Homo sapiens: one gene and its partners. The protein of the gene in region 6 purifies or fractionates together with the protein of the main gene of each other region. This does not show direct contact. Each region holds a gene or a part of one and is shown on either strand. Other genes may lie near its edges. The genes, in order: TJAP1, SLC43A3, PLEKHG1, DIPK1A, NDUFAF2, CHST15 and MTARC1.

Evidence for each region.
Region 1: the proteins of CHST15 (region 6) and TJAP1 purify together in Homo sapiens (affinity purification with mass spectrometry; one large-scale study listed by BioGRID and IntAct). This does not show direct contact.
Region 2: the proteins of CHST15 (region 6) and SLC43A3 purify together in Homo sapiens (affinity purification with mass spectrometry, with the first as the bait; one large-scale study listed by BioGRID). This does not show direct contact.
Region 3: the proteins of CHST15 (region 6) and PLEKHG1 purify together in Homo sapiens (affinity purification with mass spectrometry; one large-scale study listed by BioGRID and IntAct). This does not show direct contact.
Region 4: the proteins of CHST15 (region 6) and DIPK1A purify together in Homo sapiens (affinity purification with mass spectrometry; one large-scale study listed by BioGRID and IntAct). This does not show direct contact.
Region 5: the proteins of CHST15 (region 6) and NDUFAF2 purify together in Homo sapiens (affinity purification with mass spectrometry; one large-scale study listed by BioGRID and IntAct). This does not show direct contact.
Region 7: the proteins of CHST15 (region 6) and MTARC1 purify together in Homo sapiens (affinity purification with mass spectrometry; one large-scale study listed by BioGRID and IntAct). This does not show direct contact.

The regions. Positions count from the first base shown.
Region 1 is NC_000006.12:43,498,070-43,501,569, forward strand, and holds part of TJAP1 (tight junction-associated protein 1), read left to right. Parts: intron 1-853; exon of another isoform or gene 854-908; 5' UTR 909-932; coding exon 933-1,031; exon of another isoform or gene 1,032-1,067; intron 1,068-2,674; coding exon 2,675-2,703; intron 2,704-3,456; coding exon 3,457-3,500. UniProt on the Homo sapiens protein: Plays a role in regulating the structure of the Golgi apparatus.
Region 2 is NC_000011.10:57,413,622-57,417,121, reverse strand, and holds part of SLC43A3 (equilibrative nucleobase transporter 1), read left to right. Parts: intron 1-451; coding exon 452-549; intron 550-2,015; coding exon 2,016-2,189; intron 2,190-2,390; coding exon 2,391-2,507; intron 2,508-3,500. UniProt on the Homo sapiens protein: Sodium-independent purine-selective nucleobase transporter which mediates the equilibrative transport of extracellular purine nucleobases such as adenine, guanine and hypoxanthine.
Region 3 is NC_000006.12:150,598,479-150,602,684, reverse strand, and holds the start of PLEKHG1 (pleckstrin homology domain-containing family G member 1), read right to left. Parts: upstream 2,801-4,206; 5' UTR 2,690-2,800; coding exon of another isoform or gene 2,668-2,689; intron 1-2,667.
Region 4 is NC_000001.11:92,954,963-92,958,462, forward strand, and holds part of DIPK1A (divergent protein kinase domain 1A), read right to left. Parts: intron 1-3,500.
Region 5 is NC_000005.10:60,951,705-60,955,204, forward strand, and holds part of NDUFAF2 (NADH dehydrogenase [ubiquinone] 1 alpha subcomplex assembly factor 2), read left to right. Parts: intron 1-3,500. UniProt on the Homo sapiens protein: Acts as a molecular chaperone for mitochondrial complex I assembly. Complex I functions in the transfer of electrons from NADH to the respiratory chain. The immediate electron acceptor for the enzyme is believed to be ubiquinone.
Region 6 is NC_000010.11:124,007,168-124,010,383, forward strand, and holds the end of CHST15 (carbohydrate sulfotransferase 15), read right to left. Parts: exon of another isoform or gene 3,173-3,216; coding exon 2,982-3,172; 3' UTR 501-2,981; downstream 1-500. UniProt on the Homo sapiens protein: Sulfotransferase that transfers sulfate from 3'-phosphoadenosine 5'-phosphosulfate (PAPS) to the C-6 hydroxyl group of the GalNAc 4-sulfate residue of chondroitin sulfate A and forms chondroitin sulfate E containing GlcA-GalNAc(4,6-SO(4)) repeating units.
Region 7 is NC_000001.11:220,796,913-220,800,412, forward strand, and holds part of MTARC1 (mitochondrial amidoxime-reducing component 1 precursor), read left to right. Parts: intron 1-961; coding exon 962-1,102; coding exon of another isoform or gene 1,103-1,153; intron 1,154-1,239; exon of another isoform or gene 1,240-1,363; intron 1,364-1,919; exon of another isoform or gene 1,920-2,277; intron 2,278-3,500. UniProt on the Homo sapiens protein: Catalyzes the reduction of N-oxygenated molecules, acting as a counterpart of cytochrome P450 and flavin-containing monooxygenases in metabolic cycles.

The DNA of each region.
Region 1 (3,500 bases), on a different chromosome or scaffold from region 6:
CTGGTGAAAAGAGTGGTGGAGGCCACAGGGGTTTGGTCATCAGTGGCTGAGGCCAGAGAGCTCTCTTGGGCCTTGAGACTCCCACTGGGGATCCTGGATTGTATCCCCAAACTCACATTTTTGGTTATGATTTTTTTTAAACTAACATTTATTCAACATTTCCTAAGTGTTTTACATCATCTTCCCAACAACCCTATGAATTGGTGCTATTCTTAACTGGAATCAGTAGCTCACACCTATAATCCCAGCACTTTGGAAGGCCAAGACAGAGGGATTGCTTGAGCTTGAGAGTTTGAGCCTGGGCAACAAAGTGAGACGCTGTGTACAAAAAATAGCCAGGTGCAGTGGCACATGCTTGTGGTCCGAGCTACACAGAAGGCTGAGGCAGGAGGATTACTTGAGCCCAGGAGGTCGAGGCTGCAGTGAGCCAAGATTGCGCCACTACACTCCAGCCTGGGCAACAGAGCAAGACCCTGTCTCAAAAAAGAAAAGAAAAAAAGAAATTGATGCTGTTTTATCGCTAATTTAGAGTTGAGAAAACTAATGCATAGAGAGCAGTTTTACCTTCTGAGGCCTTCAGAGCCCACAAAGGAGAGTGGTAAGGAGGGTGGTGGGCTGCTTTGAAGCTCCCTGTCCCACTCTTAGAACCTAGGTGTTCAGGCCCTAGGCCCTGCCTTTCCCACCCATCTGTTCCCCGTTGGACCCATGCCCCACCCTCCAGCACTCCTTTGACCTATGGGGACTGACACACCTAAGTCCTGCCCCTCTAGTGACTCCAGTAATGGCCCAGGCCTGTCAGCCTATGTGGTGGCCTCAACATATGTCCCCTTTCACCATCTTTGTTTTTTCTCAGTCCAGAGTCCTTCTGGCCACATCTCTGAGCCTGCCTCCTTCTTGCTTCTCAGCAGGCGGAGGAGCCGTCACCTCCCAGAATGACTAGTGCCGCCCCTGCTAAGAAACCCTACCGTAAGGCACCACCAGAGCATCGGGAGCTGCGTTTGGAAATTCCTGGATCCCGGCTTGAGCAGGAGGTCAGCAAGACTGGTATCACAGCCTGACCGGCAGAGGCAAGGCCCCTGAGGCTGGGTGTCTGGCTGACTTCTCCTGCCTGAGCTTCTGGTCCTGAGTTGGGGTGAGAGTGGGCCTTGCTGTTGCAGGCCTGAGGTCTCCTAGCCGCAGTAGTGCAGGTGGGGGTAATGTAGGCTCAAGGGGGACTGTCTGTGAGTATATGTCCACATGTCAGGGAACCCCTGAGTCTTTGTAGCTTAGCAGAAATGATCCCATATGATATTCTCCCTGCAAGAGGCAGCCCAGTAGACTGAGGGGTCCTAATCTGCTAGTGGTTGGGACTCTGGTCCTCCGTAGTGGAGTAGAGCCATTCAACCTGTGGCCCCTTTGGGGCATATCAGGAGGCAGTGCTACAGCCACTTCCCACCAGCACAGCTGCTCTTCATTGTCCCCAGGAAGTCCAGCCCTTCCTCCAGCTTTGCTTTGTTTGGCTAACATTTGTTGAATATGTACTCCCTGCCAGGAACTGTTAGGTCCGGACTCTGCTCTTCGGGGCCTATAGTCAGCTGCAAAACATTGGCTCTCCTGCCCCATTAACTTCACTCACAGGCAGAAACGAGGGCCACAGTGGTTTACTGCCCTTGCAGCCATATCTCCATCTGGTCACAGTGCGTGGAGCACATTTAAAGAACCTGAGACGCAGCATGTGCTGAGCATCAGGCATACTGTAGCCTGCTTTGGTCAGATTCAAGGTAGAAAAGCCATGACTTGCTCATTTCAGTTCAGGGAACATTAAATTAAGATGCCAGCTATTATGCTAGGTGCTACCCAGCGAGCATTACCTCAGTTTTATAAATGAGGGAACTAAGGCTCGGTGAGGTGAAGGCTGTATAATCAGTATGCAGTAGAATAGGGTGAAATCCAGTTGTCAGAGTCAATGGACAAAGGAAGCCACCTACCTCCATTTTCTGCCAGAGGCTGCTCTTCTGAAGCAGTCAGTTCCACATAGAATAGGCCCCTTGATGTTTCCCTCTCGCGATAGCAGGGGCCTACTCTGCTTTGTGGTTGGCTGAACTTGACTCTTGAGCCATGACTGCCATAGGGGTTTGGGGAAGATGGGGCAGGAGGTTAAAAGACAGACAAGGCACTTCCTCCCCTTAGTCAGGATTAGTCCTCTTCTCCCATGCACTTGTTCTTCCTGAGCCTCTGCAAGAGCCTGATTCTGCCTTTGTCTTCATCTCAAGGCTGAGGGCTTTGTCAGAGCTCAGAACTCGTGTGTATAGTTCAGCCTGACTTTTCTGGAAGGTCTCTGCCATACCTCTGTGGATACAGGACCCACCAGGAGCCGAGTGAACAGCTGAGAGGCTGTCTGCCCCTGGGGAGAGGTAGCTTGGGTGCCAGGACTTATTTGAAAATGGCTTTAGGATTGGATTAAGGGTGAAGGTTGGAAGAGGTTCTTGAATCTTCTGGTTGGCATGGGAGAGGGTAGTCGAGGCTTGTCCCAGCATTACTGAATTGCTTCCATCCGTAGAGAGCCCTGCAGCCCTCTTCTGCTATAAGAGTCTTTGGGCTTCACACCTGAGCCTTCTTGTGGCTATTTGGAGGGTGAGCCAGCCGGGGGTCCAGTGGTCCAGAGCTGAGCCTCAAGCCTCTCTTTTTTGCCTAGGAACCCCTGACTGATGCAGAAAGGATGAAGTGAGTATCTGCTACCTGAGATACTGCCCTGCCTCAACTCTGTCCCTCTTAGCTCCAGGCTAGACTGTTGGTACAGTTGGACTTTCCCTTGGATTAGGTAGAAATAAAGGTTGGGATGGGTTGTTTTAGGGACTCTGGGAGGAGTGTTGATGTTGTGGATATTTTTTCTGGAAAATGGGATTTTATTGTTCCATGGGCTTCAAGAGAGCGTAGAATCAGGAGGCGAATGGCTCTGAGGGCCCTGCTCTTCTTGCTAAGGAGCCCTTCCCCAGCTCCTGGCTCCTGTACCAGCTGCCACCCTTACAGCCCTTTAGCCACATGAGGCCTCTGGAGAGGAGGGCAGTGCTGGGCTGGATTTCCAAGAGATGAATAATGGAGAAGCCTGATTGTGCAGTGGGGAAACTGGAGCTGGGGGCTTGGTGGCCAGCTGACATGGGCTGTAACCAGAGACAGGCTGGGAGCCATATCCCTACCCCCAATTCTTTATTTCTATTCTCCGATAGTGAAGGGAGGCTGGACTGTCCCCTACCATCCCCTCTTCCTCCCCTGACCCTCCAACCCAGGCTGTGTTCCCAGGGCCAGCAGGCCTATGAAATATGCTGCCTTAGACTCAGACTAAGACTCCAGGAGTTTCCCTGTCCTGTTTGCCTGTCCTCATGTCATCCCTTCCTTCCTGAGCCCACTCTGGAGCTCCAGGGCATGCCCTTCTATCTCTCATACCCCTCTGCCCTTGATCCCACAACACCCTGCCAGGCTCTTACAGGAGGAGAATGAAGAGCTTCGCCGGCGCCTGGCCT
Region 2 (3,500 bases), on a different chromosome or scaffold from region 6:
GGCATTCCTTTGCTGCTCACTTACTAATTGTCAGACCCCATGTGCTCTCTGATTTCATCCTCACAATAATCCTCTGAGATATCCTTATCTCCATTTTCTAAATGCAAAAAATGAGGCTCAGAAGGGTTAAGTCTGAGCCATCTTTCTGTTGCTAGGAAGAGGCAGAGCTGGGATTTGAACCTGGGCCTGCCCTACTCTTTTCATGCTTCCTAAACTTTGCTGCTTATTAGAATCACTAGATTCACATAGAGATCTTAGAAAAGGAAGCCTGGCTCTCACCTCCAGACATTCTGATTTAACTGGTCTGGTCTGCAACCTGGGCATCAGAGTGGCTAAAAGGTGATTCCAAAGTGCGGTGGAATGTGGGATTCACCATGCTATTCCCTCCAGTCTGAGTCTCAGGTTCGGCTCACAGTCCTTGGCCTTGCTGGTGGGGCTTTTGTTTCCATAGCCTGTGCCCTGGGAATGGCACCACAAAGGAAGAGAAGGAAACAGCTGAGCATGAAAACAGGGAGCTACAGTCAAAGGAGTTCCTTTCAGCGAAGGAAGGTGAGCCCTGCTGGCTAACCCATCTCTCCTCCAGACCCAAGCCTCTCCTTGTGCCTTTCCTGGCCCCTCACCTCCAGAGCTCCCCCAGGGACCCAGAATCAGGAAAGGCAGGACAGAAAAAGGGCCTTAGGCATCTTCCCAACCCTCTCACTTAATGGAGGGTCCAGGGCTTTCGTCTCTTTTCTGTCCCTCTTTTCTCTATTTCGCATCCTATCACTTCCCCACCCCTTGAAGCCCGCCTGCCATGGGTTGCCTTCCCTTCCCCCCACTCCTCGGTTCTGCCCTCTTCTGTGATGCCATTGCACTAAGTCTGGTACAGTGCCCCCATTTCTCCAGGTCTCCTGGGTCCGCCCTCTCTTATTGTCCCAACTCTATCACTGCTTCCTTTCCTTCCTCTCTGTTCTGCGTCTTTGGTTACACACATCACAAACCGCAGCTAGCTACAGTAGAAATAAGAACGGGGTGGGAGAGGAGATGGGAGATGCAGGTCGAAGGACAAAAAGGAGCAGATGAGCAGGATGAACAGGCCTAGAGATCTAATGCACAGCACGAAGACTGTAGGTCATCAAACTGCATTGTGTTTGGGACTTTCCTAAACAAGTAGATTTTAACTGCTCTTGTCACAAAACAGGTAGAAATGTGAGATGATGGATATGTTAATTTGCTTAACTGTAGTAACCATCTTAGTAGCTATATGTATCCTATGACCTCATATTGTATATCTTAAATATACAGAATAAAATTGATTTTTTTGTTTTTATTTTTACCATCTGACAATTGGATCCAAAACATGTATTTATTTATTTATTTTAAAGAAAGAAGAATAGGGTTCTGGGAAGCTTCCAAAATCAAGGGAGGACATTGAACTTGCCAGGGTGTAGGACCTATTTTAGATTAAGTCCATCCTAATCTAAACTCATGGCCGGTCTGCCTTGTTAGGAGGAACCATCTCATTGGTTAACCTTGAGAGAGGAACAGAACACTGAATTCATGGTCCCATCTGGACCATGAAGATTAGGGTAGAGGAAGATTTCCCAAAGAAACTCAGGATACTGGTATCAAAAGAAAGGGAGGTGCTGAGGAGCAGGTTAGAACAGAGTATCCACACTCATTCTCCTCTCCCTTCTGACTTTCTCCTCTCCTTGTCGTTCCTTTCACCTTTCTCGCTGAGAAAGATCAGGAAGGTATTACTGCAAGAAGTGTCATTGACCAGGCTGTGAGAGACAGATCGGATTTCAATAGAGAAGAACACAGAGGGTCATCCAAGGTGGTAGGGCCAGCATGACAAAGCAGGGAGGTGGGGATGTGTGAGTCCGAGGCAGGTGCAGAGCACGCCGGGTGAGTTCTGGGAGCCAAGGGTAGAAGGTGGGCCCGGATCTGAAATGTTCCATTGAAGCCTCCACACTCCCCATCCTACCTGTCCACTTTCCTCGTAATTCACGCCCAGATCCTCCTCTCCCCATTAGAGACCCCAGGGGCAGGGCAGAAGCAGGAACTCCGCTCCTTCTGGAGCTACGCTTTCTCTCGGCGCTTTGCCTGGCACCTGGTGTGGCTGTCTGTGATACAGTTGTGGCACTACCTCTTCATTGGCACTCTCAACTCCTTGCTGACCAACATGGCCGGTGGGGACATGGCACGAGGTATGTGGTAGGGCTGGGAGGTAGCCCATCTGCATGTCCCAGCTGGGAACACAGAGCCTCCCAGCAGGGCTGTACACACCAGAGGAGGGTCTGATGGTGTGGGGAGGAGGGACATGCAGACAAGGGTAAGGTGGGAGAGTCCCTGCCTGGAAGGGAGTTTTGGAAACTTCTCATCAACCAACCTCTCTCTTCCTTCTGCAGTCAGCACCTACACAAATGCCTTTGCCTTCACTCAGTTCGGAGTGCTGTGTGCCCCCTGGAATGGCCTGCTCATGGACCGGCTTAAACAGAAGTACCAGAAGGAAGCAAGAAAGACAGGTGAGATGCGGGGGAGGGCAGGGGCTGGTCAGGGAACCAGGAAGGGAGGTCTTCATTTACCCCATGACATCTTCTCTCGCTCTTTTTTTTTTTTTTTTTTTTTTTTTTGTGATAGAGTCTTACTCTGTTGCCCAGGCTGGAGTGCAGTGGTGTGATCTCAGATCATTGCAGCCTGCACCTCCTGGGTTCAAGAGATTCTCCTGCCTCAGCCTCCCAAGTAGCTGGGATTACAGGCGTGTGCCACCATCCCCCACTAATTTTTGTCTTTTTAGTAGAGACGGGGTTTCACCATGTCAGGCTGGTCTTGAACTCCTGACCTCGGGTGATCTGCCCGCCTCAGCCTCCCAAAATGCTGGGATAACAGGCGTGAAGCACCATGCCTGGTCTTCTCTTTTGTTCTTAACCCTGTCTAGTTGCACTCATTCATTCATTAAAACACTAGTCACTGAGTGATAGTTATGTGTCAGCCATGGTGCCAGACACCAGGGATTCAATGACAGACAAGATAGATGTGTTCTTTTTCTCAAGGTGTTCTCAGTCTAGAGGGTGGAGAAAGGCAGGTAGTCAGGCAGTTATAATCCGTGAAGCAAACCCACAGGGGGCCATGGGGGGCACAAAGAAGCGCACATAATCTGTTCTAGGTGAGGATGGGATTGGTGTCAGGGAAGGCTTCCTGGAGGGAATGGCACCTAAGCCAAGACCTGAAGGATGAGTAAGGAGGGAGGAGATGAAGAGGCGGGGCCTTGGAGAGTGGCCCAGGAGCACAGTGGGGTCAAAATGGTGAATGAGAGAGTGAAACATTGAGGAATCTGGGCAGATGAGTCGGGCTGGCTAGGGCACAGAGCACTGGGGAATCTTAGGGAAGTGGCTGGAGAGAGAGAGGTAAGAAGGGGTCAGGCTGTTTACCACATCAGGGAGTTTTGGCCTGATCCTTGGACCTGGTTGGAGGAGTAGAGGTATGCTGAGGTATTTTAACCTGCTGGGTCAGGAGGG
Region 3 (4,206 bases), on a different chromosome or scaffold from region 6:
TTATCAACAACAATCATCTTCAAAGCACACCATATGTGCCAAACACTGATACGAATCATTTCATTTAATCCTTGGCATAACTTGAGACAAGGGCGGAGAAGAAAGGAGGAAAGGTGTGAAAATGAGGAAAGGTGAGAAAACCGAGAGACACCAACTATGATTTTTACTTTTCCTGGTTATGAAATAATCCATATCTAAGTAATTTCCTTAAAGAAGTGAAGGTCTCAAAGCTACAGAGACGTAGATGTGAGCATCACACAAGTAGGCTAATTCTAGATCACTGGATCTTAACCAGACTTCCTAAATCTTTAAGATGTAGGGCTGGACTAGGTCATCCAAGAGCCCTTCTGGGTTTAATATTCCAGGGACCTAATCATGCTGCAGGAGGATTAAAAGATGACAACTGCTTGAAAGACCAACCACCAGCAATGAAAGGAGTGGAGAGGAAAAGAAATCTGCAAAAAAGTGAACGGCCGCCATTAAGATAATAGCTTCAGGAATTGCTTTTGGTTGACGAAGGGCTCAAGAGATTTAGTGCTACTCAAGCATTTCCCATATTTATGGGACAGACTATGAACCATTCGATCTTAATTAAATCACTGAAAAATCATATCCGCAAAGGGGGAACACAACATAGGACTGGTTATTCTTGGTTTTGAAAAATTATGTTGCCACTTCCTATTGTTTTAAAAATGATCATTTAACTTCTTTGAACTACAGCCTGAATCCCCCACTGAAATATTTAAGCCTGTATTCGGTGACAGTCACCTATATTAAAGGCATTGAAGGAAGCTGGTGCCCCTAATTCAGGGTGCCCATTTAGAGTAGGGGAAGCAGGAAAATGCCACCAAGGACGAGCAGAATCGGGGCAGTTATCTGGCATCTGATTGCCAGGTAACTGTTTCTCACTTTGCTTTGCCCTTTAGCAGAGGACTTGGGGGGCTGCTACACAAGGATGGGGAAGGTCGTGCAGCCATTGCTGTTGACTGTGGACTGCTACTGATGACCTATTTGAGGATGAAGCCAGGGAGGTGGGAGCACTCTGAAGAAAAAAGTTTCTTTAGTCAGGTGGTTTGGTGGCTTAGAATTGGGACCTCAAATGAGACAAAAAGTCAAGTCAGGAATTGGGAAGCCAGACTCAAAATGCTGAGAGAGTCAAACATCAACCCGTTACTTTTCTCTCTGTCTTAAATATTGTAGACCAAATTACAGGGGGTAGGGGTTTGGGAGGGGGATGAGGAATGAGCAGGAGGCCGTAGAAGCTATCTGGTTCGTGTGCACTGCTTTATAAGGGAGGCAGCCAAGACGACCAGAGGCAAGTATCTTGCCCAGGGTCCCACAGGGCAAAATTAAAGTTCGAAAATTTTCTGATCTCCTGAAATGATGGGCTTGGAAATGTTTTTAACAGCAATTTAATCAAAATCCAAAATCTCTACATTTTTTAGAAGTATGCTGTCTACAGAATCTGAGAATCCAGAAGATGCCGGTTTTAACACCTGGTTGTTATTGTACCGCATTACAGGACCTACCCAAGCCCGGAATTCTGTTAGATGACAAACTGGACCCTAGAGTTAACATTCTAGTCTTTCCCCCGGTCTAAATACAAAACACAATATAGTTCTGTATCCAATCTGTTCAAAACTCCTAAACCAACTCTCAGTCTGAGATGGTCCTCGCGGGGTGATACCTGCCCCAAACACCCACACTCGGTGATTTCGAAAATACGTGCAGTAGCCTCGGCCACCTGCGGGTGGTACAAAGGGCGCCTTGAGGACCAGAGCTGGATGAAACGCCGGCTTACAAACCCCGCTCCGCCAGCACATTCAAGTCAAGGATCCAGCTCATTGTTTCCGAGGAGCGGAATGAATTGACCAGCCGAGCGCCGTTCTCCCAGTTAGAGCGTTCCCAAGCTTCCGGCTTCGGAACGGGGCTCACCGCGAGGACACAAAAGGGGCGAGCTCGGGCATCACTGCGGTTCCCCGCCGCCCGCCGAGGCCAGAACGCTCGCAGAGTCGCGGCCGCCCAGGTGTTACCGTTTACCCCGTGACGGAAGAGCCACAGGCTCTTGACTCCCCACCCCCTGAAAAGCGCATCTGCAGAACGGGGGCGCCCCCAAGCCCTGAGCGCCGCAGCAGCTCGGCCGCCGCCCCCACCGCGCGTCCCCGGGTCCTCGGGCTCCCGGCTTCGCTGCTGGGGAGCTGACCCAGCTGACTGGCTGTGGGGTCCCGTTCTGGGGCTGTCCTGCTGAGTCGGGGGTGGGGAAGCGGTGGCTACAACTCCCGGGTGCTCGCAGAAACTCCTCTGCGCGCTGATGTTGCAGCCGCTGGGGCGAGGGGCGGGAGCACCGGGAACTTGGGGGCGCGGAACCCCAAGCGGGGCGGCGGCGGGCAGCATCCCCGACCCGACTCCGACCCCCGAGACGCGGCGCCCCCCAGCGCCCTCCGTCCCCACCGCGCGGTGCCCCCGGCGCCCTCTGTCCCCACCGCTCGGCGCCCCCCAAGGCCCTCCGTCCCCACTGCGGAGGGGCGCGCAGGGGGCCGGCGGGGCCCGGGTACCACGCTCCGCCCGGCCCCACCTGCGGATGTGGGGCTCCCGCCGGAGGTCCCCGGGTCCCCCCTCCCATCCCTGGAAAAGTCCCCAGGGCGTCCGGGCCCGACCGGCGCTTACCCGGGGAGGGACGGCTTCGCATGCCCGGGCGGCGCTCGCAGGTCGGGCGGGGAGGGTGCGGGCTGCGCTGCGCCGGCTCGGGCTGCCGGAGCGCCCTGCAGCCGCCGTCGGGCTCGGGCTCGGGCTCAGGCTCGGGCTCCGACTTCCTCTTCCTCGGGCTCGGCCCCACTGCTCGGCCGCGCCCCGGCCCGCCCCTCCCCGCGCCCAGACGCCAGCTTCGGCGGCCGGAGCAGTGGATCGCTCGTCCCGCCTCCCCTCTGCCCTGAGGGTGAAAAAGGTGGAGAGGAGGGGGGCGAAGAGAAAGAGAAATTAGGCACTTGGCCTTGTCTCTGGAGCCTTGCCAAAGAGAACAGTCAAATTACAGCTTCGGGGGGAATAAAGTTTTTTTTTTTTTTAATTCTGCTACTGTTTTCGCAGACACATCACTTTTTTTCATTTTCCTAGCTCTTCAGGTTTAGCTTTCCTTTGGACGTAATAATTTCCTATGTGAGTCCTTTAAAATAATACCCAAAATCATGGTTTTAGTGAACATTCTAGTTTTACATAGAAGCTTTGCCGGTAATCAAGTGAAAAGAGGGGGAAGCCCGGTGTTCTTCAGGCGTCATTACCCTAATCACCTCGGTTAAAGCACCAAACGACCTTTGCCTAGAGAAAGTAAAAGTGGAAACGGAGGTAAAGAATAACCGGTGACAGCCAGAGAGATGTTTAAAGGCACCGGCTCTGCAGTAAAGTTATGACTCCAATCAAAGGTGCCTGCAGCGACAGTTAAAGGCATGTGAAGTCATTTCTTAACACTAATCTCCCGCCAAAGTCGGACGTATCAGGGTCGCCTGTGGACCCCCTTAGGTTTGGTGGTGGATTTGATTGCACTCTTAGTTGTTAACAGACCTTCAGCCTTACCACTTGCTAGCTGTGTGGCCTTGAGAGAACGCTTTAACCTCTCTGTGTTCTGTCTGTTTCCTCATCTGTAAAATGGAGATGATGATGATGATGATGATGATAGTGCCTACCTCATAGAGTTGCTGTATGTGATTTAAATAAGAGAATGTGCGTGAAGGGCTTAGGAGACTGTCTGGCACATGCTCTACAGCCTGAATAAATGTTAGCTATTCTTGTTGATTTTTGCCTTTTATCTGCTTTTATGCATATACATGATTATGGAAATTATCATAAAGACTGGGAACAAAACAAGGTTTGTGCAGTAAGGCTACACAGCATCACAGTTCTCTACCACGTGGAGTTTATGTTCTGTTTTATAATTTGAGTCTCCACAACTGACTTGTATTACCTAAAACTATGGGACTGGGTTATGCTTGGAATACATTTACCACGGTAGATTTGCAATGGGACTAAAACAGACATTTGCCATCTTCAAAGCATTGTTTCAGTTGGCCTTGCGATAACCTTGTGAGGTTGACAGGACAGGTGCTAGTCGCCTTTCACAGACAGGAAACTGAGCTTAATTAAGACCCTGCCCAGCTTCTGGAGCTCACACAAAATCATGCCTGTTACCCCATCTCTCTATGTTGTGATTTGTGT
Region 4 (3,500 bases), on a different chromosome or scaffold from region 6:
AAACTGTGGTACACCCAGACAACGAAATATTATTCAGCGTTAAAAAGAAATGAGCTATTAAGCCATGAAAAGCCATAGAGGAGACGTAAATGCATATTACTAAGTGAAAGAAGCCTATTTGAAAAGGCTACCTAAAATACTACGTGATTCCAACTAGATGACATTTTAGAAAAAGGCAAAACTATGGAGACAATAAAGACCAGTGGCTTTTGGGGGCTCAGTGGGGACAGAAGGATAAATAAGCAGAGCACAGATTTTTAAGGCAGTGAAACTACACTCTATACAATAATGATGGATACATGTCATTATGCATTTATCCAAACACACTGAATGTACAACACAAAGAATGAACTCTAATGTAAAACTATGGACTTTGGGTGATAATACGTCAGTGTAAGTTCATTAACTGTAAAACATGTACCATTATGTGGGGGATGTTAAATATAGGGGAGGGGGCTGGGCACGGTGGCTCACGCCTGTAATCCCAGCACTTTGGGAGGCCAAGGCAGGCAGATCACGAGGTCAGGAGATCGAGACCATCCTGGCTAACACAGTGAAGCCCCGTCTCTGCTAAAAACACAAAAAATTAGCCAGGAGTGGTGGCGGGCACCTGTAGTCCCAGCTACTTGGGAGGCTGAGGCAGGAGAATGGCATGAACCTGGGAGGCAAAGCTTGCAGTGAGCTGAGATCGCACCACTGCACTACAGCCTGGGTGACAGAGTGAGACTCTGTCTCAAAAAAAAAAAAAAAGAAAAGAAAAGAAAGAAAAAAGAAAAAAAAATGAAAATAGGGGAGGGGCCAGGCACAGTGGTTAATTCCTATAATTCCAGCACTTTGGGAGGCCAAGGCAGGAGGATCACTTGAGCCCAAGAATTCAAGACCAGCCTGGGCAATGCAGTGGGACCACTGTCTCTTAAAAAAATATTTAAATTAGCTGGACTTGGTGGGATGTGCCTGTAGCTACTCAGGAGGCTGAAGCAGTAGGATCACTTGAGTATGGGAGGTAGAGGCTGCAGTGAGCCATGATTGTGTCACTGAACTCCAGCCTGGGTGACAGAGGGAGATCCTGTATCAAGAAGAGAAAAGAAAAGAAGAAAAGGGGAAAAAAAAGAAAAGAAAAGGAGGGAGGCTATTCATGTGTCAGGACAAGGGGTATATGGGAAATCTCTCTGCATTCCTCTCAATTTTGCTGTGAACTTAAAATGGCTCTAAAAACTTTTAAATCTTTAACTTAAAAAAAAAATCTGAGGCACTGAGAAGACTACAGTGAAGAAACACTTTTACTGTATGGTCCAGTTTGAAAGAAATGTGGTAAGGATGCAATCTGCCTGAGAATTCACCATTTCTTTGAGCTTCTAACAAAGGTTCAAAAGCAACTAATGGTAATATCAAGTGGCTCTCTGTACACATACCAGTCTCAGAAAGCTAATCATAGTTCTGGAGATTAAATTTCAGGCAAAGGCAAAAGCTAATCTCTGAACAGCAGGTCTAATAAAGTTAATGAGAACTATACAAACTACAGATCTTCTCCCTCTATTGTCTTTGGAGGATAGAGAACAACCATAGGCTCTAATTATCCTTAGATTTAAAATAATCCTGGAGACTGAAAATGGGCAAAAAGCCCATTTTTACTACAGTATTTGGCAACATTACTACTATTACCAATTAATCTGTATCAGTAACCCTGTCTGGCACTAAATCTCACAAAATATCCACATTAACTCATAAGGAACCAAACCATCCACAGCAGTCATGTTTGAAAAATTGTACTAATACGAGCCAAAGTGCCAGGTATCAGAAATGTTAAACAAGTGCAAACACCCTAGCTAGAACATGCCATCTACCCATTCACTCATAACAACCCTACTGAACACATACTGAAATTGCTAGGGCAGTCATTTTCAAGAGGATACTTCTAAAACTTTAAGCCCCTTACAAGCAAAACGGCTTGAAAACCTTCAAAGGACCCAAGTACATGGGACTTCAAATTCCATTAGAACTGCACCAACTTTTCATATGCAACAGAACACATAGGCAGAATGATTGGAATGGAAAATGTGTATAATCTAAGTACAGAGAATTATGCTGAATTGTCTTGACTTTCATTCTTTCAGGACTTAACGATGGTGAGAAGGAAGAAGGTATTTTAAACCAAAACCAACAAATTATAGGGTTGCTGTGTTATCAGCTTCACTCAGACTATGAGTAAACCCTAAACAAAGTAGATCTTAGTTTGTAGAAAACACACTGCTAAAAAAAGACAAATGCAGGTGTCATTCTGGGTTATCACACCCAAGCAGGCCACAAGTAGTATGCACCATAATGGCACGTGGAAGAAAATACTGCCTAAAAATGGTTTAAGCAGTTAATACATCCACAGTTTCTGATCTCAGAGGCAGGATTCTACTCTGTTCAATGTGCTGCATCATTTAGCCAGTCCAGGAAGTGTTATTTCCCAAGTAATGTTTCAACAAAATATCTGGAAAACATGGAACTGTAAATTAGCTTGCTTGCTCTGGGCAAGATGCCTTGCCATGAGAAGCTTGTTGCTCAGGTAAACGTCTGTTGGCCCTTCCAGGCAGGTCACAAGTCCTTCTAGCCCACAGAGAGGCTGCACAGACTAACAGTGTGCCTGCCCAGCTCCCCTGGAAGAAGTGCTCCCTGCACCAAAAAGCTGACCTTGGTGGAATCTGCAGCAAAAGGCAGAGAGAAGAAGGACGACTTTCATGAGATAAACTCGGTTCATTTATTTTTCAACTGTTTTATGGAGATATACTAATAATTCACATATCCTACAATTTATTCATTTAAAGCATAACGTTCAGTAGGTTTTAGTATATTCACATACTTGGGCAACCATCACCACTATCAATTTTAGAACATTTCTGTCCCCCTCAAGAACACTTCATATCCATCAGTAGTTACTCCCCATTTCCCCCCAGGCAACCACTAATCTATCTTTTTGTCTTTATAGATTTGCCCATTCTGGACATCTCATATGAATGAAATAATACGTGATCTTTTGTGACTAGTTTCATATATTTAATGTTTTTAAGGTTCATCCATGTTACAGTGTGTATCAGAACTTCATTTCACTTTATTGCTGAATAATATTCTGTTGTATGCATATACCACACAAGTTCTTTTCTTCACAGGCAGTAGAATCTCTTCTGCTATATAAGCAAAGCTATAAACAGTGAATAGGTGCCTGCATTAGCTCATGAATGTCTATTATGGCTGAAAATATATCATTAATTGTGTAATGCCACAGTTTTCCAAAAGCGTTACCAAATGCCACAGTGATATCTGGATTAATAAAAATACTGAGAATGAAGTTCCTTTACAAGTAAGCTGACTGCTTAAAAGTTTTCTCCTGTACACTGCAGAAAAAAGGGAACTCACAGCTCCTAAGGCCTGAACACCTCAGGACATAACTGGTCTTTGACCCCATCCAGTTAAAGACAAACAGCATAACTGCAAGTATACAAAGCTGGTCTCTG
Region 5 (3,500 bases), on a different chromosome or scaffold from region 6:
ATAAAGTGAGTTAAATTTTGTTTCCTTCTTTTGAATTTTCTGGAAGCGTTTGTGAAGAATTTGTATTACTTATTTCTTACATGTTGGATATAAATTGCCTGTGAAGCCATCTGGTCCTGGAGTTTTCCTTGTTGGAAGGCTGGAATTAAAAATTCAAAGATAATAAATTTTTAACCTACAAATTTAATATCTTTGGCAGGTATAAGACTACTCAGGCTATCTATTTTGTCTTAGGTGAGTTTTGGTAGTTTTTATCTTTTGAGTAGTTTGCCCTTTTTATCTAGTATGTTGAATTTACAGTCATAAAGTTGTAATACCTCTTCATTATCTTTTTAATGTTTGTACAATTTGTAGTGATATCCTCTCTTTCCTGAATTGATAATTTGTGGCTATTGTTTTCTTGGCCTATCTGATGAGTGGTTTGTTAATTTTATTGATCATTTTAGAGAATTAGCTTTGAGTTTCACTGATTTTTCTCTGTAAGTTTTTTCCATTGGTTTCAGAACTTATCGCTTTCTCTTATATCGTCATCGTTTTCTTCTGCTTTCAATTGGTTTTATATGTTCTTCTAGTTTCTTAAGGTGGCCACTGAGATCATAATTTGATCTGTTTATTTTTTAATATACATTTTTAATGTTAAAATTTCTTGTAGGCACTGTTTTGGCCACATTTCACAAATTTTTATCTTAAAATTTTCATGTAACGAATATATTTTCTTATTTATTTTTTCCTATATGACCTATGTATTTATTTAGAAGTATGTTCTTTACAAATATTTGGAGATTTTCTAGATGGAGATTTTCATTGACTTCTAGTTTAATTCTATTATATTCAGAGAACATATTTTATATGATTTCAGTTATTTTAAATGTATTGTAAATTGTTTTATGGCCTAGAGTATGGTGCAATTTGGTAAATCTTCTGTTTGTGCTTGAGAAAAATGTATTATCTATTTTGCTATTTGGGGTTGAATGTTCTGTAAATGTCAGTTAGCCCAAGCTGGTTGATAGAGTTGTTCAAGCTTTGTATATTCACACTGATTTTTTTTGTACTTATTCTATCAATTATTGAAAAAAGTATGTTACAGTCTCTGAATACAAGTTTACATTTGTCTTTTACTCTTTCCAGTTCTATCAGTTTTTGCTTCATGTATTTTCAATACCTATTGTTAGGTCCTTACACATTTATAATTGAAAGATAATAATACAAATTACCCAAAATAAAACACAGAGAGAAAAAAGACCAGAAAAAAAAGAGCAATTAGCAAGCTGTGGGATACCCCCAAGTGGCCTAATATATGTAATTGGATACCATGAGGGGTAAAGGTCATTTTGCAGGTCAAAAATATTTGAAGAAATAATGGCCAAAAATATTCCAAATTTGATGAAAACTATAAACCCACAGACCCCAAATCATCAACAAATTCCAAAAACAAAAAGTGTAGAAAACCACACCAAGGCATATTATTATCAAATTGCTCAAAGCCATTGATAAAGAGAAAATCTTTATAGAGCTAGAGAAAAAGATACATTACTTACAGAGGAAGAAAGACGAAAATGAGTTCAGGGTTTTTTTTAAAACAAACAATATAAGCTGGAAGACAGTGGAACAATATCTTTAAAGTACCAAAAGAGAAAGTCTGCCAACCTATAATTTTGTACACAACAAAAATACCTTGTTAAAACAAAGGCAAATGAAGGTTTTTTCAGACATACTGTACCTGAAAGAATTCATTACACAGAGACCATAATTCCCTTTCCTCTTCCCTCTACTGGATATCTTATTCCCTGGATTCTGGGCCTTTCACCACAGTTTTGTAGCATATATGCTTCAGTAGCCTCCTGAGAAGAGGTTCAAGGCGGATAAAGTTTTTGAGTCTTTGAATGTCTGAAAAGATTTTTATTCTGTCCTCATTTGGTTGATGTATTTGTTGGGTGTAGTTTCTACTGCAGTCATAGTGAGTAAATGTCTAGAGAAAAGCAAGCAGTAAATTCTATACGAGCTTAAAAGGAGTAGCCTATGAATTGAGGAAGAGTATATGCATAATGTAGGCTTTGGTAAATGTTTTTAATGTAACCTAATGCTATGGTTTACTGTATTTATGAATATATATTTTAAAATGCATGATTACATTGAATAACAGTGTTTTGGCTTTAATAGTAAAGCTTTTTTTCAAATTTAGTCGGTATAAAATTATTTGAGATAGTCACACATACTTTGTATGTGCCCTATTGACAACAACCAAAGGAATTTCTCCTTTCCATGCAAATGAGGAACACATAGACACAGATGTAAATGTTCTAAATCATTATTTCTAGTGATATAAGTTAGGATTGTTTTACTGGAAGATTGTGGTGCTTTTTGAGTGTTGGCTGTGTATTTTAGACAAAGTAGCTGGTAACTAGGACTAGTTCCAGCTTTACAGGTCACCATGATACCCATATCCATGTCTCTGGTCCCAAGTCATTAGCTGTAAGATAGCCAAAGACCTATGATGTGGCTAGGTGTGAGAATTCTGCCCCATATAGGCATTCTGTATAGGTTGGTAACAGACCAAACATGGTCAAATTTTTTTCTGTTGAAATTTGAACTCATAGATATATAGAGAGAGGAAAATATGAGAATAATTAGGGATCAGTAGATGTCCATTTCTAAGAAGTTAGGGTGGCAAGCATGTTGAAAGGTTCCTATTAGAGCACAATAGGTATTGTTGTGTCCTAAATCACATTCCAGTTGTCTCTATTTTGCAAATGTTGAGTTTTTCGTCTTTCTTCCTGTATCTTTACAGTATTCCCTGGTTACCTGAGATAACTTGAGCGTAACTGTTCTTTGAAATCTGAGACTAGCTAACATATATACTATGTACTAGATTTTAGAAAATTTTAGGTATCTGAAAATACAACTTTTTCCTTTCATGTGTTAATTTTGTCTCTTAGAAATTCTTCCTGTTAAATATCAAGGAACTCATGACCTCAAGTGATCTGCCCGCCTCAGCCTCCCAAAGTGCTAGGATTACAGGCATGAGCCACCGTGCTCTGCTGTCCTTTTTTTTTTTTTTAAATAGTAGCCATCCTAACAAGTATAAGGTGATAGCTTATTGTGGTTTTAACTTGATTTCCTTGTTGGCTAGTGATATTGAGAACCTTTTCATATACTTGTTGGCTATTTTGTATGTTTTCTTTGGAGAAATGCCTGTTAGTTCCTTTGCCCATTTTAAAATCAATTTATTTGGTTTTTTGCTATTAAGTCATAGAAGTCACTGATACATTTTGGTTTTTAATCATTTATGAGATATGGTTTGCAAATATTTGTCCTATTCCATAGGTTGCCTTTGTATCCTTTGCTTTGCAGAAGTATTTTGGTTTGACGTAATCAGACTTATCTATTTTTGCTTTTGTTGTTTTGTGCTTTTGGTGTCATATCCAAGAAATCATTGCCAAAGCCAATGTCAAGAAGCTTTTTCCCTGTTTTCTTCTAAGAGTTTTGTAGTTTAAGGACTT
Region 6 (3,216 bases):
TGCAGCACCTTGATCTCGGGTCTCTGGCCTCCAGACTGAGAAAATCAGTTTCCGTTGTTTGTGGTCTTTTGTCCTGGCTGCCCCACCTGAGTGCACACCACACCTCCTTCTGCGGGCTTGCCCTCAGCAATAAGGACATGTGCCAGAGACACCAGGGGTCTCAAACTCACAGCTGCCAGGGGCCAGGCAGGCCACCGGAATGAGGCCTGTGGTCACTTAACCTTCAAATTTGAAGGTCTGAAGACAACGCTAGGCCTGACTGTGGCTGGGCCAGACCTCCCACCCTGACTCACACCCCAACAGGACTCGCACAGGGAGTCCCTGCTAACATCTGAATCCTTTTCTCTCTGGTCTTGAGTTTTCTTCTGCCTGTTGCTCGCACAATCACACCTCGTCTCTCAGCAGCCAGCACAGCTGTAACTCCTCTTTACACAGAGCCTGCACAACTCGAGCAGGTGCGACACTAAACCACTGCGATTCACTCATGCACCAGGAAGAGCTTGGCTGCAGAGGAAGAGCACGCGCTCCACAGGCGTCACTCTTATGGGTCCATCTTTAATTATGTTAAATATTAATAAAAGTACAGCGTAACTGCGATTCACTTAACATACCTTACAGGACTAAGGGAGTACAATTTAACACGGTCACAACTTTTGAGAACAAAAAGGAACTTCAATACCATGTTGTGAGAAATGCTCCAATTTGCTTTGGTTTTGAATGGCAGGCTCGAGAACCACCGCCCAGAACGGAACCTATTCTGTCAGCAAGAGCCGGGCCTCGAATGAGAGGAAGCAGAGGCAGCCGAAGTGCCCTCTGGAGAGAAAGGCCCCTGGAGGGAAAAACCATGTCTGGATGGCATTGAGTGGCACAGAAGGGATGGGACTGCATATATAAAAAAGATCCGCATAATAAACCAAATAATATTGGAAATAATACCTTCAGTAATACTTCTGTAAGAAGCAGAATTACACCACATGTTATTCACATGCATAGGAGTGCATAAGAAAAATCCCTTGTTGTAATTATGGTTGGTGTGGAATAGTAAAATATGTACTGAAAATGACAAGTTAATTGGCAGAGAAATTAATCTATAAAAGGGTTGTGTCCAGAGCGGAGGAGCCTCATTAGCAACTGAACAGAACCCACTCAGAAGACGCACTCACCCACACGTGCGCGTACACACACACACACGCGCGCACTGTACTGCAAATAAATATACACACACACTGAAGTGATCTCTCCCTAAAGCATCCTTGTGCTCAGGCCAGATTTCCCTGCTGGCGGCTGCTCCCAGTGCCGGCTATAGAGAAGGTGGGGACTGTCCCTGCAAGTGGGAGTTCAGGACACACGCTCCTTCAGTAGCAAAAACAGCCCTGGCCATCCTGGCGCTCAGAGCCCTCTGCACACCTTCGAACGGGCTGTGTGTCCCTTCTCTGATGGCAGAAAGACAACACCAGCAGAAAGACGGCTGAACAACTGCAGATCCTCCTACCCCCGAAGCCTGGTCTGTCTCACACATACAAGTTAGAGCTGGGTAGACGGGTGCTTGCACTTTCTGGCTTTGGTGGGCGAGACCTTGGCCTGAGAACTTTGGTTCACAGGAAGCTTCCCTTGACAATACTTGAGTGCAAAGCTTCATCCAGGTCCCACCTGGGCTGTTGCCAAGGATGCTCAAGCGTTCTCTTCAATCTTCCCTGTGACTTCCAAGAAACGACAAGATCTCTAGCCCATCCATCGGTAAACCAAGCTGCCAAGTGGCCTGGAAAATTCCATGAAGAACACGGCTCTTAGAAACCTCATTCCAAATCTCAACACGCCACGTTCAGCCCAAGTTCAGCTTGTGCATTGTGTTTTGGAATTGGGACACGAGTATCTATAGTCCCTTGCTGGGTGAGGAACTTTGACCACACGCAGTGGAGAATGTGGAAATAAACTATTTCCAATGGGAAGGCAGAGAAATGGAGCCTGTAGCCGGCCAGAACTAAAAATTAAAATCCTCTGTTTCTCTGATGATCTTGTAAACCTGATGAGGGCTTGAATTACCTAGATTTTCCAAGAAGTGTTCAATTCCTTGAGGTTGCTCATTCTGGCATTAACAGCAAAAATTTCTCTTCCAATTATAAACTGAAGTTCTTGAGAAAACGTATGAAGAGGCAGCAGAGAGAGAGCCAGGACTGGTTAAATGCAGAAAGTGGTTTTGTTTTAAACGCATTCATTTTCTATGTTAAACATAAGTCCACAAGGACAGAATAGGAGGAGGTCAGAAAGATGAAGGTGCTGCCAAAAACTGACTTATTTTTTTCCTTTTGGAAACAGTGACGTTAACAGGGTTTACATCTGAAGAAACTGGAGGGCTGAGTTTGGAGTAAAGGAGAAAAAAAAAATGAAGAGCCTCCATTCTCGAAAGACTGCGGTTCTCTGTCCCAGTGAGGTTAGCGATCGCAACAAGAGTGTTTCAGAAGTGAATGTGGTATGATCACACCTGTGAAGATAGCCATTGAATACAGACAGTCTGTGCAACACGGCGAGACCCCATCTCTAGGGGGAAAAAAAGGGAACGTGAAGTGTAAGTTCCAGCCAGGCCTGTGGCATGACCTCTGGCTTGCTGACTCAGAACCCAGAGGCTCTCCAGAAGGCGGAGGCGGGCAGGGCCAGGCTGCCTTCCCTAGGTGTTCTCTCCACACCCAGTGCAGGCCAGCTGGCTGCATCCCCAAGCTCCAGGACGCTCAGAGCAGAGCTGAATTCTTGAGAAACTGGGGTCTCCAATGGCCTCGGATAGAGGAGCTCTGTGAGGGGTCCATTGCTGAGCTCTCGAACATCACGAAGGAAATTCCAAAATGGTTATAATTCATGTGTGCCTAGAGTGGCAGAGTCCTGGGGTTTTCCATACCATGAGTGAAACAGTTCCCCGCAAAGAGATTTGTAAAATCCTGATGATGACGGCATTGGCGGGCCCAGCACGTGCAGCAACAATTCAGCTCTCACGTCGTCTTCCACGCAAACGCCTCATCCGCGAGGACCTGCGCCAGCCTAGCGTTGAAGGGCCTGTAGAAATCCCGCAGAATCTTCTGTGTGATGGGCCACATGGGCCCCAGGTTCCGGTCCTCGGGACGCCGTGCATTGGATGCGGGGCTCTTGGTCATCAAAGCCTCCTGCTTCTCACTTAAGGGCCCTAGAATAAAAGAAGACGAGTCCCGTAAGGCAGGAGGCATGGCA
Region 7 (3,500 bases), on a different chromosome or scaffold from region 6:
CTGGTAGCTCAGATCACAAGCAGTAGGCAGAAATAAAGCCCTTCCCTTGGAAGCATTGTTTGTTTCTTTGTTTGGGGGACTCTTGAATTTTTGCCCTTGAGCATCTACCTTCCTATTTGTGTAAGCATTCTGATGCCAGTAGGGTTTCAAAACTGTTCTGCACCAGTGTCTTTTTTTCATTCCATTCTGTAATTGCACATGGAGTCCAGAATTTTTACAGTTTGCAGTTGTATGTCAGATTCCAATTGTGCAAGTTGGCATGGGTATGGAGATACACAGACTCAAATGATCAGCCTTAATGGCATAAAGCTCTAAGGATTCATCATAAAAGCAGGGTTTGTAGTACCATATACTGCTTTTACCATGGCCATAAAAAAAATAAATTATGCTGTAGTCCTTACTGCTAAGGAGGCTGAGGTGGGAGGATTGCTTGAGTCCAGAGAGTTGAGGCTGCAGTGATCTGTGATGGCACCATTGCACTACAGCCCAGGTGACAAGGAGTCTCTGTCTCAAAATATATAAATAAAGAAACAAGCAAATGCATAAATTATGGTCAACATAAATATTAATTTGTAAGTTGCATAAAATAAGTATTCATGGAATTAGTGAACATTTAAATCAAACATAATGAGGTCATCAAACTCAACCACCTTATTAAACATTTGAGAAATGGGAGGCTTAGAAAGGTTCAGTGATGTCCCCAAGGGCACATGCCTTGTGGCAGCTTAGGATTGATTCTGAGTCCTTGTTCCCTTCATTCCACCATGCAGTTTCTGCTATCTGCAAGGCTATTGAAAACTTCTGAGTCACTGTGACTTCTATTAAAAGAACAAGAGAACTACTTTGAAAGATTGTGTGTGGGGTGGGGTGGAGCATGGAGGCTATGTCTAGGAACTAGGCACACCTAACCACTGAAAAGTTGGTGTGCCATGTGTTATAACAATGTCTATTTCCTTATCAGATTGCTTACTCAGACACCAGCCCATTCTTGATCCTTTCTGAGGCGTCGCTGGCGGATCTCAACTCCAGGCTAGAGAAGAAAGTTAAAGCAACCAACTTCAGGCCCAATATTGTAATTTCAGGATGCGATGTCTATGCAGAGGTAACACTATGCCCCTTTGGATCTTTCCTTGGATTTGACTTCTTTTTTAAGGTATGAGAGTCTTTGACATTGGATTAGATTATTCTGAAGGGTGCATTATTTATCAACTCTGTAATACATAACAATTTGATTTTTAGATTTATTCAGCACTTAATAAGTGCAGACTTCTGTGTGGAGGATACAAATGTTGATGGGTCAGAGACTGTCATCAAGGAGGCAGTTCAGTATCTAAGGCTTCTAAGGAGAATTCTGAGTTGACAGGTTCGTTGTTGAGTCACATTTTCTTGCATAGACTACATGATCTGTGTGGGCCATGGAACAAAGAAAGTGTGTGCTCCTGTCTTGTTAAAGGATGGTCTTACTGTTTAGTAGACGGCTCTCTTGGAGAAGACAGGCATTTACTGCAAGGCTGCTGGGTGAGGGTTGGGAGAGGTTGTTGCCCCTAAGCTTCATGGCACTACCCTGAAATGCTTGCAGTGCCACCTTCCATCTGCCCTCAGATGTTTGCGTGGTGACTTAGCTTGAACAGCCCTGAGGCTTGGTTTCTGGGATTCCACAGGATTCTGGCAGCAAATTTACCTTTGTAATAAATGGCCTTTGGCTATTTAACTTGATTCTCTCCCTGGGCTTCCATGAAGGCAGAGGTTGGTGGCCTAGAGGCATGGTGAGTGGCCACCAGCTGTGGATACTCAACAGAAACCCTGACCCACAGCTAGGAATTCAGGAGCTCTGGTTGTGCCTCAAATTTATGTTGAGAAGGGAGAGGTAAAGGGGACCATATAGTGGTTCTTACGTCTGCCCATTTCCTCCATAACAGGGAAAAATGGAATCAAAGCAATTGAGTTTTAACCTTTTATCCTCAGAGGAGCCAATTATATTCTTCACTTTTGCTGTACGGAGGCAAAACTATGCTGAAAGAGAAATAATCTAAGAATTTGATTCCCACATTCAAACCAGAAGATGTGACGGCTGGTTTCAGCTTCTGCACTGGCTTCTGCATGACTTTGAGCAGCCCCGCTAAGTCCCATTTACCTTGCCTGAACAATGAGATGATCATATTTCTGCCTAGGGTTACCTTAAGGGTCTGTTGAAGGGTCAGTTTGGATAATGTAATTTATGAGATGTATAAAAGCAATATCAATCGATGGAGGATAATAAAAGTACGCCCAAATCCACTGCTAATGCTTCATATAAAATACTCATTGCTCCAAACTTCCAAGGGTAGCGTTTCTTCTAAAGATGGTGGAGAACTTCCTAGTGTGAGGCGGGTGGACTGTGTGCATGTCCCCCAAGGTCCTGGGTTGGGCATCTCTCAGTGCTTCTTTGTGACAAGAAATTTCTGCCTGTCCTGCTCCTGTGCACCATGGGCCAGCCTGACTTAGACAACAGGAAAATAATCAGTGTTTGGTTGCCTTTGACCATCTCCTTGATATTCATCTTCCACCAGCTATGGCTAGGAGAGCCATTTCTCCTGAGAACGTTCCTTCTCAGGAAAAGAGAAATGAGTGGGGAGGGTTTTGAATGAATACTTGTGTTGCGCTTAAGTATGTTGTCTCTTCTATGCCTCACGGCAGCCCAGCGGGATAAAGCTATCATTCCTATCTTACAGGAGAGAAGAGAGAGGCTTGGGGAGGTGAGGTGGCCTGCCCTAGGCTATACCACAGCAAGGAGGGGCTGGGTTTTGAACCCCAATTGTACAAGGCCAGAGGAACCCTGAGAATTCTAGGGCATATGTATGGGGCTGGGACAGCTGGATTCTAATCCACCTGCTTCCGCAAGTGACCGTACAAGCCTGGACAGGTCACCAAACTCGCCGAGGCATCTGCTTCTTGCAGTTGTAAAACACGGGCAGTTTCAATGACTCCCTCGCCTGATGGGAGCTGTGAGAATCAAGGTCGATGACAATTTGTGGAAAAGTTCTAGGACATTAAGTACCACAGGGAGGTAAGGAAGAGTTTCATTCCTGGGAGTTTGGCTCAGGTACCAGCTTTTTCCCTATGATCGACTTTAAGCTTTCTTTCTCCCCTGTGTGATTTGTGCACCGAGGGTCATGCTGAAGCCATTTCCACCCCAAAATTCTGTGACAGTAAGATTCGGATGACAGGAGAAGAGGAGATGGCCCAGAGTAGAACTTCAGATCTCGGAGATTTCTTTCAATTGAGTCTTACTCTAAAAACCCGTATCTCTCTCTCTATCTCTGAGTGTTCCCTAGTTGAGAACATTCTGTATGTGAAGCTGGGCGGTAACACAATGGTGGCTGAGCCGGCCTTGTTTTTAGTAATTCACCCATCATCGAGTGGGTTGCTGCCCCTGTGTGGCATGCGCTGTGAATAGACACATGAGAACAAGGGTTGAAGAAATGCACTTGCTTCTCCTAAGGAGCTCAGTGTGGTCAGAT